Linked DNA regions of Homo sapiens. The protein of the gene in region 1 purifies or fractionates together with the protein of each later gene. This does not show direct contact. Each region holds a gene or a part of one and is shown in the gene's direction. Other genes may lie near its edges.

The links. The genes of interacting proteins can lie anywhere in the genome.
Region 2: the proteins of SLC4A1AP (region 1) and SMC4 fractionate together in Homo sapiens (co-fractionation; one large-scale study listed by BioGRID). This does not show direct contact.
Region 3: the proteins of SLC4A1AP (region 1) and WIPF2 fractionate together in Homo sapiens (co-fractionation; one large-scale study listed by BioGRID). This does not show direct contact.
Region 4: the proteins of SLC4A1AP (region 1) and MINDY3 fractionate together in Homo sapiens (co-fractionation; one large-scale study listed by BioGRID). This does not show direct contact.

The regions. Positions count from the first base shown.
Region 1 is NC_000002.12:27,691,389-27,694,888, forward strand, and holds part of SLC4A1AP (kanadaptin), read left to right. Parts: intron 1-2,296; coding exon 2,297-2,366; intron 2,367-3,245; coding exon 3,246-3,295; 3' UTR 3,296-3,500.
Region 2 is NC_000003.12:160,409,650-160,413,149, forward strand, and holds part of SMC4 (structural maintenance of chromosomes protein 4), read left to right. Parts: intron 1-2,270; coding exon 2,271-2,435; intron 2,436-2,676; coding exon 2,677-2,804; intron 2,805-3,500. UniProt on the Homo sapiens protein: Central component of the condensin complex, a complex required for conversion of interphase chromatin into mitotic-like condense chromosomes.
Region 3 is NC_000017.11:40,267,804-40,271,303, forward strand, and holds part of WIPF2 (WAS/WASL-interacting protein family member 2), read left to right. Parts: intron 1-3,500. UniProt on the Homo sapiens protein: Plays an active role in the formation of cell surface protrusions downstream of activated PDGFB receptors. Plays an important role in actin-microspike formation through cooperation with WASL.
Region 4 is NC_000010.11:15,840,008-15,843,507, reverse strand, and holds part of MINDY3 (ubiquitin carboxyl-terminal hydrolase MINDY-3), read left to right. Parts: intron 1-235; coding exon 236-296; intron 297-1,908; coding exon 1,909-2,082; intron 2,083-3,500. UniProt on the Homo sapiens protein: Hydrolase that can remove 'Lys-48'-linked conjugated ubiquitin from proteins.

The DNA.
Region 1 (3,500 bases):
TGTCTCCATTTTCCTTTCTAATTGAACTAATATAGAATCTTCTTTTCTTGTCTAATCTAGCTAATGATCTATGAATTTAGTTTATCTTTTCAAAAACCACCTTTTTTTTCATTGATCTTTTGCAGTTTCTTTTGTTTCAATTTCATTTAGTTCTGCTCTGATCTTTGTTATTTCTTTTATGCTAGCTTTGGGTTTAATCTGTTCTTTTTTTTTTTTTTTTTGAGACAGAGTCTCATTCTGTTGCCCAGGGAGTGCAGTGGTGCGATCTCAGCTCACTGCAACCTCTGCCTCCCGGGTTCAAGCAATTTTCCTGCCTCAGCTCTCCTGAATAGCTGGGATTACAGGCGTGTGTCACCACGCCCAGCTAATTTTTGTACTTTTGTTAGAAGCAGGATTTCACCATGTTGACCAGGCTCGTCTTGAACTCCTGGACTCAAGCGATCTGCCCACCCCAGCCTCTCAAAGTGCTGGGATTATAGGTATGAGCCACCGCGCCCAGCCTCATTTGGTCTGTTCTTGTTCCTCTAGTTCCTTGAGGTGTGACATTAGGTTGTCAATTTGTGATCTTTCAGACTTTTCTCTCTCTCTCTCTCTCTCTTTTTTAAATAGAGATGAGGTCTTGCTATGTTATCCAGGCTGGTCTTGAACTCCTGAGCTCAAGCAATCCTCCTGCCTTGGCCTTTCAAAGTGCTGGGGTTATAGGCGTGAGTCACCATGCCTGGCTCAAGACTTCTTGATGTAGGCATTTAACACTATAAATTTTTCCTCTTAGCACTGCTTTTGCTGTATCCCAGAGGTTTTGATAACTTGTGTCACTATTATTTATTTTGAAGAATTTTTAAATTTCCAGTGATTTCATTGTTAACCCAAAAATCATTTAGAAGCAGATTGTTTAATTTCCATGTATTTGTATAGTTTTGAAGGTTCCTTTTCAAGTTGGTTTCTAGTTTTATTCGACTGTGGTCTGAGAAGATACTTGATATGATTTCAATTTTTTTAAATTTGAGATTTGTTTTGTGGTCTATCATATGGTCTATCTTGGAGAATATTTCAGGCACTGATGAGAAGATTGTATATTCTGCAGTTCTGGAGTAGATGTTCTGTAAATATGTTAGTTGATTTGTTCTGGAGTATAGTATAGGTCCAGTGTTTGTTGACTTTCTGCCTTGATGATCTGTTTGCTGTTGTCAGTGGAGTGTGAAGTCTTCCACTATCATTGTGTTGCTGTCTTTCTCTTTTGTTAGGTCTGGTAGTAGTTGTTTTATGAATCTGGGAGCTCCAGTTTTAGGTGCATATATATTTAGGATTGTAATATCTTCTTGTTGGGTTGATCCTTTTATAATTATATAATAGCCTTCTTTGTCTTTTTTTCAGTGTTGTTGCTTTAAATTCTATTTTATTTGATATAAGAAAAGCTACTGCTGCTTGCATTTGGCTTCCATTTGTATGGAATATCTTTTTCCACTCCTTTACCTTTAGTCTATAAGAAGCCTCACATGTTAAGTGAGTCTCTTGAAGATGGCAGATATTTGGTTTGCGATTTATTTATTTATTTATTTATTTATTGAGACGGAATCTCGCTCTGTAGCTCAGGCTGGAGTGCAGTGGTGTGATCTCAGCTCACTGTAACCTCTGCCTCCCGGGTTCAAGTGATTCTCCTGCCTCAGCCTCCCGAGTAGCTGGGACTACAGGCACACACCACCACACTTGGCTAATTTTTGTATTTTTAGTAGAGATTTTGCAACGTTAGCCAGACTGGTCTTGAATTCCTGACCTCAGGTGATCCACCCACCTCAGCCTCCCCAAGTGCTGGGATTACAGGTGTGAGCCACTGCGCCCAGCCTGTGATTTTTTTTTTTTTTTTGAGTGGAGTATTTAGACCATTTACATTGAATGTTAATATTGAGATGTGAGGTACTGTTACAGTCATCATGTTGATTGTTACCTAGATACTTTTCTTCCTTCATTACATTATTGTTTTATAGGCCCTGTGAGTTTTATGCTTTCAAGAGGTTCTATTCTGGTGCATGCCAACCTTTTGTTTTAAGATTTAGAACTCCTTTTTGCATTTCTTGTAGGTCTGGTCTGGTAGTGACAAATTCCCTCAGCATGTGCTTGTCTGAAAAAGACTTTATTTCTCTTTCATTCATGAAACTTAGTTTTGTTGGATACAAAATTCTTGACTAATGTTTATTCTGCTTAAGGAGGCTAACAATAGGACCCCAATCCCTTCTGCAGTTGTAAGGTTTCTGGAGAGAAATTCTTGTGAATAAAACAATCCATCTTTTCTTTTTAGCTTCCACCAACACTTTCTTCCAAATATCCTGAAGATGACCCAGACTACTGTGTGTGGGTCCCACCTGAAGGTAGATTGTTTTTACTTTTTTTTCCTCTAAGGTTCATTTATTTATATTTTTGAATAGGTAATATAGATTTAAGGTTCAACATAAGAAAGTTACAAGAGTATGTAGTGATAATTTGTATACCATGTTTGGATCCTTATTCAAACAAACAACTGTTTAAAAAAATTATTAGCCAGTCAGATAATTTTGAACACTACCTGGATATTTGATGATACTAAGAAATTATTTTTTATTTTTTTAAAGTGTGAATGATGTTGAGTTATGTTTTTTGGAAAAAGTCCTTGTCTTCTAGGAATATATACGGAAGTGTTTACAGGTGTAATGTTATCTGGGTTTTACCAAGTCAAAAGAAAGGAAAACAATTCTGGCTGTGCCTCAGCTACTCGGTTGTTTTCCTCACAAGACAACCAATTGTTGTTAGTTTCTTATGGATACTTATATATAAAATGCTAAGTAGAGAGGAGCATCTATAGAAAAAAAATCATAAAAGTTAACCTGCTGGATCAAAGGTATAAACATTTTAAAGATATTATAAATTGCATTCTATAGAGATTGTACCAGTTTTATGCTCATACACACACCCTTAAAGCAATGTATGAGATACTTACTTCCTCATATGTTCATCACAGCTTGAGATTTCTAATATATTAGTAACTAATATAATTTAGTTACTTGAGATGTCTGCTTTTTCTATGCTAACAAATGTTAGGGTAGAAATGAAAGAGGGCTGTATTTTGAAATTTCATACAAAAAGTAAAATTTCTACCGTAGAATAAACCTTTTTGTCTATTTTACTTTTTGGCCTACTGATATCTGGATATCTTTTCTCTCCTGACTTTGGAAGAGTAAATAATGTATTTCTTTTTTTATATTCTGATCTAGGTCAAAGTGGAGATGGCAGAACCCATCTTAATGACAAGTATGGCTATTGATTGCTTCAGAATCCCAAAAGAAAACCTTGTGGACCATGTGACATGGAATATTTGGGATAATGTATCAAATTGAATGGCCAGAGAAGTTTAGATGATTATTTGTAAGATCTGGTGACTGGCTTTTCGTTCTGTGTTCTTGGCTTCCTAAATTTATCTGCCCATATGATTCTCATGCATTTGATATTTATGTTTAAAAGTGTTTATA
Region 2 (3,500 bases), on another chromosome or scaffold:
TTTGGGATGGTTTTTCATTTTCTTAAAATAAGTGTTCAGATATTCTCCTTGAATTGGGTAGAATATTAATTGTCAGATATTGTTTTTTATTTGGATGATAAACACTAACCCACAGGATTTAAACTACAACTTCTAGACTAGGCATGGTGGGTCATGCCCTTAATCCCAGCATTTTGGGAGGCTGAGGCAAAAGGATCGCTTGAGCCCAGGAGTTCGAGACCAGCCTGGGCAACATAGAGGGACCACCATGTGTACAAAAAAAATTTTTTTTTAAAGATTAGCTGGGTGTGGTGGTGTGCATCTGTAGTCCCGGCTACTTGGGACACTGAGGTGGGCGGATCGCTTGAGTCTGAAAGGTCAAGGCTGCAGTGAGCTGAGACCACACCACTGTACTCCAGCTTAGGTGACAGAACAAGACCCTGTCTCAAAAAAATAATAAATGAGTGAACAAACAAACTGCAGCCTCTAGATCAGTAGTTCTCAGCTGACAGTAATTCTGCCCCTTTTCCCATAGGACATTCAGTAACGTCTGAAGACAGTTTCGGTTGTTATAGCTGGTAGAAGTGGGGATGCTACTGGTGTCTAGTGGGTGAAGGTCAGAAATGCTATTAAAGCATCTTATAATGCCCAGCATAGCTCTCCACAACAAAGAATATCCAGCCCAAAATGTCAGTAGTGCCACTGTTGATAAACCCTACGTAGATACAAACTTGAATAAGACTCTTGGCTTCCTCAGTGACTTAACGTTCATCCTGTGTAATCCAAAGGTTTGGGCATTTTTCCAGGCTTCAATCCTGTCTAAAACTTAAACTCTTGCTGCAAACATTTAGAGAGAACTAACAGTTGAAAGCAGAATAAAATACTTTATATAAATATCTACATATTTTCACTTATATACCGATTCATACATAATATAATGAATGTTATGGAAAATAACTTTTGGGGTAACAGTTTTACTTTGATAATCATTGTGCTTATAGACTGTCAGAAGTATCGAAAAGTGATTTATGCAAATAAAATTATTTCTTAATGAGTAGATTTTCAAATAAGCTGTTTTGTCCACTGTTATTGAATTGTTTACTTTTTGTAATTATGTTGAGGCTTTTGGTGAATTATGATGCTCTCATTAGTAAGTTTTACCCCACATTTTTAAGGTTCACCTGTATTCACTTAGGAAATAGGAATCACTAAGATATTTGAATTAAGAAAACAATATACTATTTTTAATGTGTAATTCTTTTTGTTGACTTTTTTCGTCTTTGCTATTTTGTTGAAAATAAGAGGTATATCTTTTTTCATTTGCCTGTACCTATTCTTCCATTGTAATAGTCTAGAGTACAAACAAGCTACTCCTATAACGTAGCAGCATTTGGCCTGAACATACTCAGACACAATTTTCTCTCCACCATCAAACTAAATGACTGCCTAGCAGTCAGCCTTGATGGTTACTTATTATGGATTTTTTTTCTCTTTACTCTTCATAATTAAACTGCATAAATGCAAATATGTAAAGTTAATCTAAGATTTTAATTACAGTTCAAAGTTGTTATATTAGTGATTACAAACTGAAAGTTTTCTGATGTCTTATGTACCAGTGCCATTAGTTTTCTCTAGTCAAGGTGGTCTGTTTGATTTCTGTTATTACCATGAGAAATAGGTAATATCCTTTTCTGTCAAAGGCTCTTGTTTTTAGAAAACTGAACATGTAAGTTTTTGACTACCTTTGAAACCCATTACTTGTTAAGGAACTCCTAAAAACCATGTTTGTAGAGAAAGTTGGTAATACTACTTTGGGACAGGGTTCCTAACACAGTTTAACCATGCAAGTGTTTTTGAAAATTCTTTGTTTTAGAACAGGAGCTTCAATTGTGTTATTAACAATTGATAATGTTTCCACTATAATCAGATTGCAGATTAAGTGAAAGCTTTCCTAAATTTTACTTAAAGAAACAAGTTTTATTTATTTATATTGAACATTCTAGTTGGGGAAATGAGTGTGTGTAAGTGGGTGTATATTACACTTTTATAAGGATTTATCTAAGGGAATATAAATTCATGTTTCATATCTCCCTGTGTAAAATTAAAACTCTTAGGAATACCAGTGAAAATAACATTTTTATTTATACCTTATTAAATCATTGCACTACTAACTGTACATTATTTAGATGTTTATTACTCTTGGCTTTATTATTTAACTGCTCCCAATTCTCACTTAAGATTGATTTAGCTAAACATACACAGTGAGTATGAAATATAACTTTTTTTTAAAGGGTGAAGTTGAACAAATTGCTATGATGAAACCAAAAGGCCAGACTGAACACGATGAGGGTATGCTTGAATATTTAGAAGATATAATTGGTTGTGGACGGCTAAATGAACCTATTAAAGTCTTGTGTCGGAGAGTTGAAATATTAAATGAACACAGAGGAGAGAAGGTGAATCATCTGTAGACTTTCATTGTAAATCAGAATGTTTCATTTATGATCTAACAAATTTTAGTAAGTCAGATATTCATGTTATAATACTTAATGAAGAAGTGTTATATTGAAATTTATATCTTAACATTTAAGATGAACATTCTCCTTATTAACTGTTTTTATCTAATGTTTGCATATTTTAAGTTCATATTGTACATATGAAGTGTGTATTCAGTCTTTAAACTTTTAATTTCTGTAGTTAAACAGGGTAAAGATGGTGGAAAAGGAAAAGGATGCCTTAGAAGGAGAGAAAAACATAGCTATCGAATTTCTTACCTTGGAAAATGAAATATTTAGAAAAAAGAATCATGTTTGTCAATATTATATGTAAGTGCCTTGATTGATATTACCAATTTTTATATTAGTTTTTAACCATTAAGTCAAAGCCCTTCTCTTTTCCTAGAGAAACATGAAGACTGAAGTGAAAAAAAATCTCTAAATATTGTTTTGTGTGACTGAATGTGTTAGCTCATGCCTGTAATTCCAGCACTTTGGGAGGCTAAGGCAGGAGGATCACTTGAGGCTGGGAGTTCAAGACCAGCCTGGGCAACATAGCAAGACCCCATCTCTACAAAAAAAGGAATTATGTGGTGAACTTATCCAATGTGAGGACTATCTGGCTGTGACACCTGTCATCCCGTTGATCACCAGGGTTGAATTTATTAAATTAGGCATATTAATTCATTGAAGTTGACTTTTTAGTATCCTGCTTTAAGTTGGGAGGTAGGTTCACAGGTATTTATTACTGTACTCAGTCCTTTTACGTGTGCACTTTTTAAAATTCGTGTAATAGCAGATCTGATTTTTTTCAGCTTATGATGAACTGTTTTTTGAGATGGGCTGTTTCACCCAGGGTGGAGTGCAGTGTGTGATCACGGCTCACTGCAATCTCAACCTTCCGGACTCAGTTGATCCTCCCACCTCCACTTCATGAGTAGCTGGGACTACAGGGCACACACCAACACACCTGGCTAATTATTATTATTATTATTGTTGCTGGGATTTTTTTGTTTTTATTTTTTC
Region 3 (3,500 bases), on another chromosome or scaffold:
TTATTTTAAAGTCAGTTTCTACAGGTATAGAACATTGATTAAGGAGTTATGTCATGGAGTCTGGGCATGATGGCTCACGCCTTAATCCCAGCACTTTGGAAGGTTGAGGCCAGCAGATCATTTAAGCCCAGGAGTTCGAGACCAGCCTGGGCAACATGGCAAAACCCTGTCTCTACAAAAAATAATTTTAAAAAATTAGCCTGGCATGGCGGTGCATGCCTGTAGTCCCAGCTACTTGAGTGGCTGAGGTGGGAAGACCACTTGAGCCTGGGAGGTGGAGGCTGCAGTGAGCTGTATTAGTGCCACTGCACTTCAGCCTGGGCAACACAGCAAGACGTTGTCCCAAAAAAAGGGTAAAGGTTATATCATTAAGTAGCAAGGCATTAAAAGTCCATTAACCTGTGTGCAGCTTCTTTGTTCAGTACATACAGATTTGTACTCTAGCAGCTGGCCATCTAACATAGGGCAGCCAAACAGTGGCCTACTGCATTCCTGATCCCATATCTCCCTAGCTTTAGCCATAATGAGGTAGTGCTAAGGTGGCCCTTGATTCTATAAAGTTCAGGTTTGACTTTTTTTTTAACTTAGGGATTTTACAAAAGACTCTTTGTCTGAGCAAAGCTCATATCTTTCTGACCTCATCCAGGAATAGAAGAAGAGAAAAATGCAATTTCCGTGGGTTGAGCTGAGCACTTTTAAATGTCTGCAGGCTTTCTTGCTTCCCACTTTTCCATTCTTTCTCTGTGGTAGCTAGGACTACAGGAGTGTTGCCACCATGTCTGGCTCATTAAAATTTTTTTTTATTTTTATTTTTTAAGATGAGGTCTGTGTTGCCCAGGCTGGACTCAAACTCTTGGGCTCAAGCCATCCTCCCACCTTGGCCTCCCGAAGCCCTGGGATTACAGATGTGAGCAATTGTACCTGGCTAGAGCAGCAATTCTTAAGAGTGATAAACCAGAAAAAAATTGAGATATTTTAGTCAGAGATCATTTGAGTATTGCCTCGATTTGTTGTGTGACATTGGACAGATCACTGATTCTCTTTTCTCACCGATTCTCTTTTCTCACCTGTAAAATGTACATTTGAAAAGTACAGTGGGGGTCAGGGACACAGGCTCACACTTGTAATCCTAGTGCTTTGGGAGGCTGAGGCAGGAGGATCGCTTGAGACGGAGTTCAAGACCAGCCTGGGCAACATGGTGAAACCCCATTACTACAAAAAATAAAAAAACTAGGCCGGGTGCAGTGGCTCACGCCTGTAATCCTAGCAATTTGGGAGGCTGAGACAGGCAGATCACCTGAGGTCAGGAGTTCAAGACCAGCCTGGCCAACATGGTGAAACCCCATCTCTCTACTAAAATACAAAAATTAGCCAGGCATGATGGCGGGTGCCTGTAATCCCAGCTACTCGAGAGGCTGAGACGGGAGAATCGCTTGAACCCGGGAGATTGTGGTTGCAGTGAGCTAAGATTGCACCACTGCACTCCAGCATGGGTGACTGAGCGAGACTCTGTCTCAAAAAATAAATAAATAAATAAATAAAAATAAATTTAAGAAACCTAGCCAGGCGTGGTAGCGTGTGCCTGTGGTCCCAGCTACTTGGGAGGCTAGGATGGGAGGATCACTTGAGCCCAGGAGGCAGAGGCTGCAGAGAGCTGAGATCACGCCACTGCACTCCAGCCTAGGCAGCAGAGCAAGACCCTGCCTCAAAACCCGCCCCCCCAAAACCCAAAAACTAGCATTATTGGTTCATAGAGTTTGTTTCAAGAATTTTTTCTTTGCAGAGTAAAACACTGTCTTTTTTTTTTTTTTTTTTTTTTGAGATGGAGTCTTGCTCTGTCGCCCAGGCTGGAGTGCAGTGGCGCGATCTCGGCTCACTGCAAGCTCCACCTCCCAGGTTCACGCCATTCTCCTGCCTCAGCCTCCCGAGTAGCTGGGACTGCAGGCACCCGCTACCATACCCGACTAATTTTTTTGTATCTTTAGTAGAGATGGGGTTTCACCATGTTAGCCAGGATGGTCTCTATCTCCTGACCTTGTGATCCGCCTGCCTTGGCCTCCCAAAGTGCTGGGATTATAGGCATGAGCCACTGCACCCGCCAACACTGTCCATTTTTAAGGGAATTTGAGAAAAATAGAAACCATCATACTTTTCTCAAAATTAGGGTTAATCTTGGATTACAAAAGCCTGTCTCCCATCCCAGGACTTCTTTTGGAAATTGTTTTTTAGGGACTGGAGTTCTGGCTCTGTCACTTGAAACAGTCTTAAAACTGGATCTGGGGCCGGGTGCGGTGGCTCATGCCTGTAATCCCAGCACTTTGGGAGGCTGAGGCGGGCAGATCATGAGGTCAGGAGATTGAGACCATCCTGGCTAACACGGTGAAACCCTGTCTCTCTACTAAAAATACAAAAATGAGCCGGGCGTGGTGGCGGGTGCCTGTAGTCCCAGCTACTGGGGAGGCTGAGGCAGGAGAGTGGCATGAACCCGGGAGGCGGAGCTTGCAGTAAGCCGAGATCGTGCCACTGTACTCAAGCCTGGGGGACAGAGCGAGACTCCGTCTCAAAAAAAAAAAAAAAAAAGAAAAATAACTGGATCTGACAAAGAGCCCAGAAGCTTATTGGAGACAGCAGAACCTGGCTGGGATGAGGGAGGGAGCTGGAGAAGCCAAACAGATCACTCTTACCCTGCTCTATTTTGCCATTCCAGGTCGTCTCATCGCTGTCACCTGCCTGGTGTCTAGCTGGTGTCGGTGTCCTTGTGAACCTGGCTAACCCTGTTTACCTTGCTGCCCTGGCCTAGGAGTAGATACAAATTCTCAGGGCCTTGAGGAATCTGGGTTTTAGGGAATATTTTTGAGGGCTTAAAGAAGCTTCTATTCTTAAAGAGCTTTAGTTTGAGTAGATTTGGAATCAAAACAAGGCTCAGAGATCTGCTGGGAGTTACAAGATTTCTCTTTAATTATTGCATCTAGTGTCCCCTGTTTCTACTGAACAAAGCTTGGAAACAGTGAGGAAGAGTTGACATTCTGAGTGTGTCTTACGGGAAGCAAAAACATTTATTGGGCTTATTGTGCCAGATTGTGTGTGTGTGTGTGTGTATGTTATTCTATTACTGTGTTACATGCTTAACTATAGTCACTACAGCAATTCTGATAGTAATCAGGAGGAATAATAAGATACTCTTTTCTTTGAGACAGTCTTGCTGTGTCACCAGGCTGGAGTGCAGTGGCGCGATGTTGGCTTATTGCAGCCTCCATCTCCCAGGTTCAAGCTCCTCCCACCTCAGGCTCCAGAATATCTGGGATTGCAGGCGTGTGCCACCACGCTTGGCTAATTTTTGTACTTTTTTAAAATTTGAGGTGAGGTTTCATCATGTTGCCCAGGCTGATCTCGAACTCCTGGCATCAAGCAATCTGCCTGCCTCAGCCTCCCAGAGTGTTGGGATTACAGATGTGAGCCACTATGCCTAGCCAAGATACCGTTTTACTACTAAAAACAGT
Region 4 (3,500 bases), on another chromosome or scaffold:
TATTGTGGAAGAAGAAGAATTTTATGAATCTAGAATCAAGTTTATAGCAGTATACTCTGAATAAATAACTGCACAGTTCCTGTCAAATGTGAGGGGAACCCATTTGACATCTTTACAGAACTAGTCAAAAGATTAGAAAGGGAGTACACATTATTTTTTCCCACTTTAAAATTGAAGAATGATATGATGTATGGTTATAATGCATTTCACTAATTATTGCTTTAATTGTGTAAAGGCATTTCTTTTGAAGAAGCTCCTGTTTTCTTCGGAGAAGTCTTCTTGGCGGGATTGTTCAGGTATGATAGCTGTCTTTTAAAACTTTTGCTTCCTCCTCTGTTTTAATAGAGATGATCTAAAATTATCTGAGAAAGTCAAGTATCAGTGGGAATTTTTTTTCCTGAGGTTTCCTTTTAAAATGTTTTAGAAAGTTTCATGAACAGTGACTCCATATTTCCAAATTTGGCTTTCTAACCAGGGGTTATAAGACATGATGGTATAACTAAGGGAAAAACGTTTGGCCTCTTGGTAAAACACGGTGCATTTCCTAGAACTGTTAGGTGGCAGCATGCCATAAAGAACAGTCTTTTTTTTTTTTTTTTTTTTGTAGTCTTATTTAGCTGTGGGCAAGACCTCAGAATTATCATTATATTCCTGCATGTTTTAGTATAATGCCTTACACAATGCAAATACTGCAAATAATTTTGGATGAAATTGCAAATGAAGCTGTCATAGCTTCTGTAACATGAGCTTCTGTACCCAGAGAGATGTGTGGTGCCACCTTATAATAACAAGAATTTGCATTCCACGTGACAGTTTACAAAGATCTTTCCTTCACTTACACAATTTCCTGTGAACCTCACAGTAAATTCTGGAAGAAGTTAGGACACATTACAATCCCAGTTTTGTATCTAAGGATGTAACAGCTTACATTCCAAACCATGACTATAGAATCTACTAATGATTTTGAATTTAAGAGTTAAGGGATCACTTCCATAAGTTTTAAATTAATAGGTGAAATACAAAACAAATTTTAGTAGAGAAGAAACTATTTGAGATACTATTTTTGAAATGAACTTTTAATAAAATTTATACTATTTCTTATACTATATTCACTATATTCACTTTGATAAAACATTTGTAAAGCATTGTCATAAGTGTCATAAATACTGTGGTGATTAGAAAGTGAACAGCATAGTTCCTGCAGTTAAAGAACTGTTAATCCATTAGGAGAGACAGAAACCTCCTTGTATCATAAAATTTTTGAAAGTTTCAGAAAGTAATACTACTTCTTGAGAGTAATACTGCTTGAAAAGAGTGTGGCTAAGGTTCATAAAGAGATGGTCTGAGCATTTGCGCCATTTTCTATAAAATTCTAATGCTCAAATCTGTATTCTAACCACTGGCTTCTGCTGATGTAATGGACTTTGGTAACATATGTGCTGACGGTCTCTCATCTCATTATTCTTATCCCTTTGGGACGGGGTGATCATAGACGTTAGATTAATTCAGATGTGAGGGAAAAAAAATAGAGGTTTCAACAGGCCTTTACATTGTGCTCAGTTCTTCAGTAGAGGAAACCTCTTGGCTTAAATGCTGCAGTTGCTAAAGTTTTAAGAAAGTGATGATCAGTGTCACATTATGATCTTTCATAATGTTTAGTTCTGCATTTTTCAGTATTCTTTTTCTACTTGGTGGTGTTATTTGGATGGCTTTATTTAAAGTGGTGATATTTTAATCCACAAACACATTGTTTTTCTAAGACATAATTTAAAATCTATTTAGAGATTTTTCCCCCATTTTTAAAATGCTTGATTTTCATCATTAACCCATTCTTACTATTGTTATTCATGACAGAATTTTTTTTTTTCCAGAGGAAACCATTATAACTTATGCTTTGGTTATTTTTAGAGGAAGAGCAGAAGGAACTCCTTTGTCATACCTTGTGTGATATTTTAGAAAGTGCTTGTTGTGACCACTCTGGATCATACTGCTTGGTTTCATGGTTAAGAGGAAAGACAACTGAGGAAACTGCTAGTATTTCTGGGAGTCCTGCAGAGTCTAGTTGCCAAGTGGAACATTCTTGTAAGATATATTTTTATTTCCTGAAGTTTTTTTCTTGTTCCTTTGTTTTAATGAATCTATTGAATATTTTGAAGAAAAAATTACTTAAAATTTTCATAACATGTATTCTTTTCCAGCTTAAGCTTAATTACTGAGCCTCACTATTTTTTATTTCCATATCATTTATTTTAACTACTTAGAAGATACTACATTTTTGCAAAAAAAAATGCATCTCTTAAACTTTTAAAAATGTTCTGGTTAACTTCTGCTTGATAATAATCTCTTTTGAGCTTTAGAACTCTTATTTAGAAATAATGATATGCTTCAGTTTCAGATGCCTTAATGTTTTGCTTTGGTATTGCAAAAACGGATTTTTTTGGACATCAGAAGATTTCATAAAGTTATCTTTACTTGCTTCCCAGAGCAAAGATGGGGACATTTCTCCTCATTGCAAGCTGTTTCTTTTCTTTCCGAATTATTTGGATATTTTTATACATATAGATTATTTTAAGGCAATTTTAATTATGCCTTAAGTTTTTCATACCTTGAAGATAAGTTAAATAATAGCTGTTTACGTTAAATAATAGCTATTCTCATTATTCATAAAAATTATATATTCTGTGGTTTTTAACTTTTGAAAATTGTTATGTAATTGACCCGAAAGCTGCCAGTGTGAAATGGAGACAGCTAGTGGTACGGAAGCTAGTTAAGAGTTGCTTTTCTGATTTGCTTTTCAGGAATAATCTTGCTAGTTGATGGTTTTTTATAATTGGTAGTCCCAAGTGCTTATGTTAAATAAGTGACTTATTCTACCCACAGAGCATCACATTAACTATCATCTTTGTGGAAAGTTTTCGTAAAGAGATTACGTACCTGAAAGTACACTTCAATTGTATGGGATACACATTTTGCTTTCCATATAGTATTATCTATAAGGTGCTGTTGCCTCCCTGGACTAAAATGCCTCTGTGTTGTCAGTGTCTTTTTTCTCCTACCTCTGCAGTTAAAATGCCTTAAGCCTGGCAAATTCTAATAGTAGTAACATTTGCAAGGAATAATTTTGAACATTTGAACAGCTATATGATGCTTCCTTTTGAAGCCTTTGAAATATGGCCTTTCAAAAAGAACTTAACATATTTTAGAGTTTATAATGACATTTGAAGACAACAAGTGGAAAACAGTCACAAGGATGCTAGTCCAAAGTGTCACTAAGATTGGTTTTAACATATTCTCCAGGTTTTACTGTGTGGGTGTTAGCACACTTAATAGGTTCATTTAGGATATTAAAATTTTGAAAGAGGAATTGTTGATCTTTTGAAAAGGTATTTTAAAGATTTTGTGCTTAAAGCCAGTCTGTATATTGATGTGAGAAAATAGTAAGATCTTTTTATATAACATTTTCCATTAGTATCTTAACAGTATACTGAGTGCATACTATG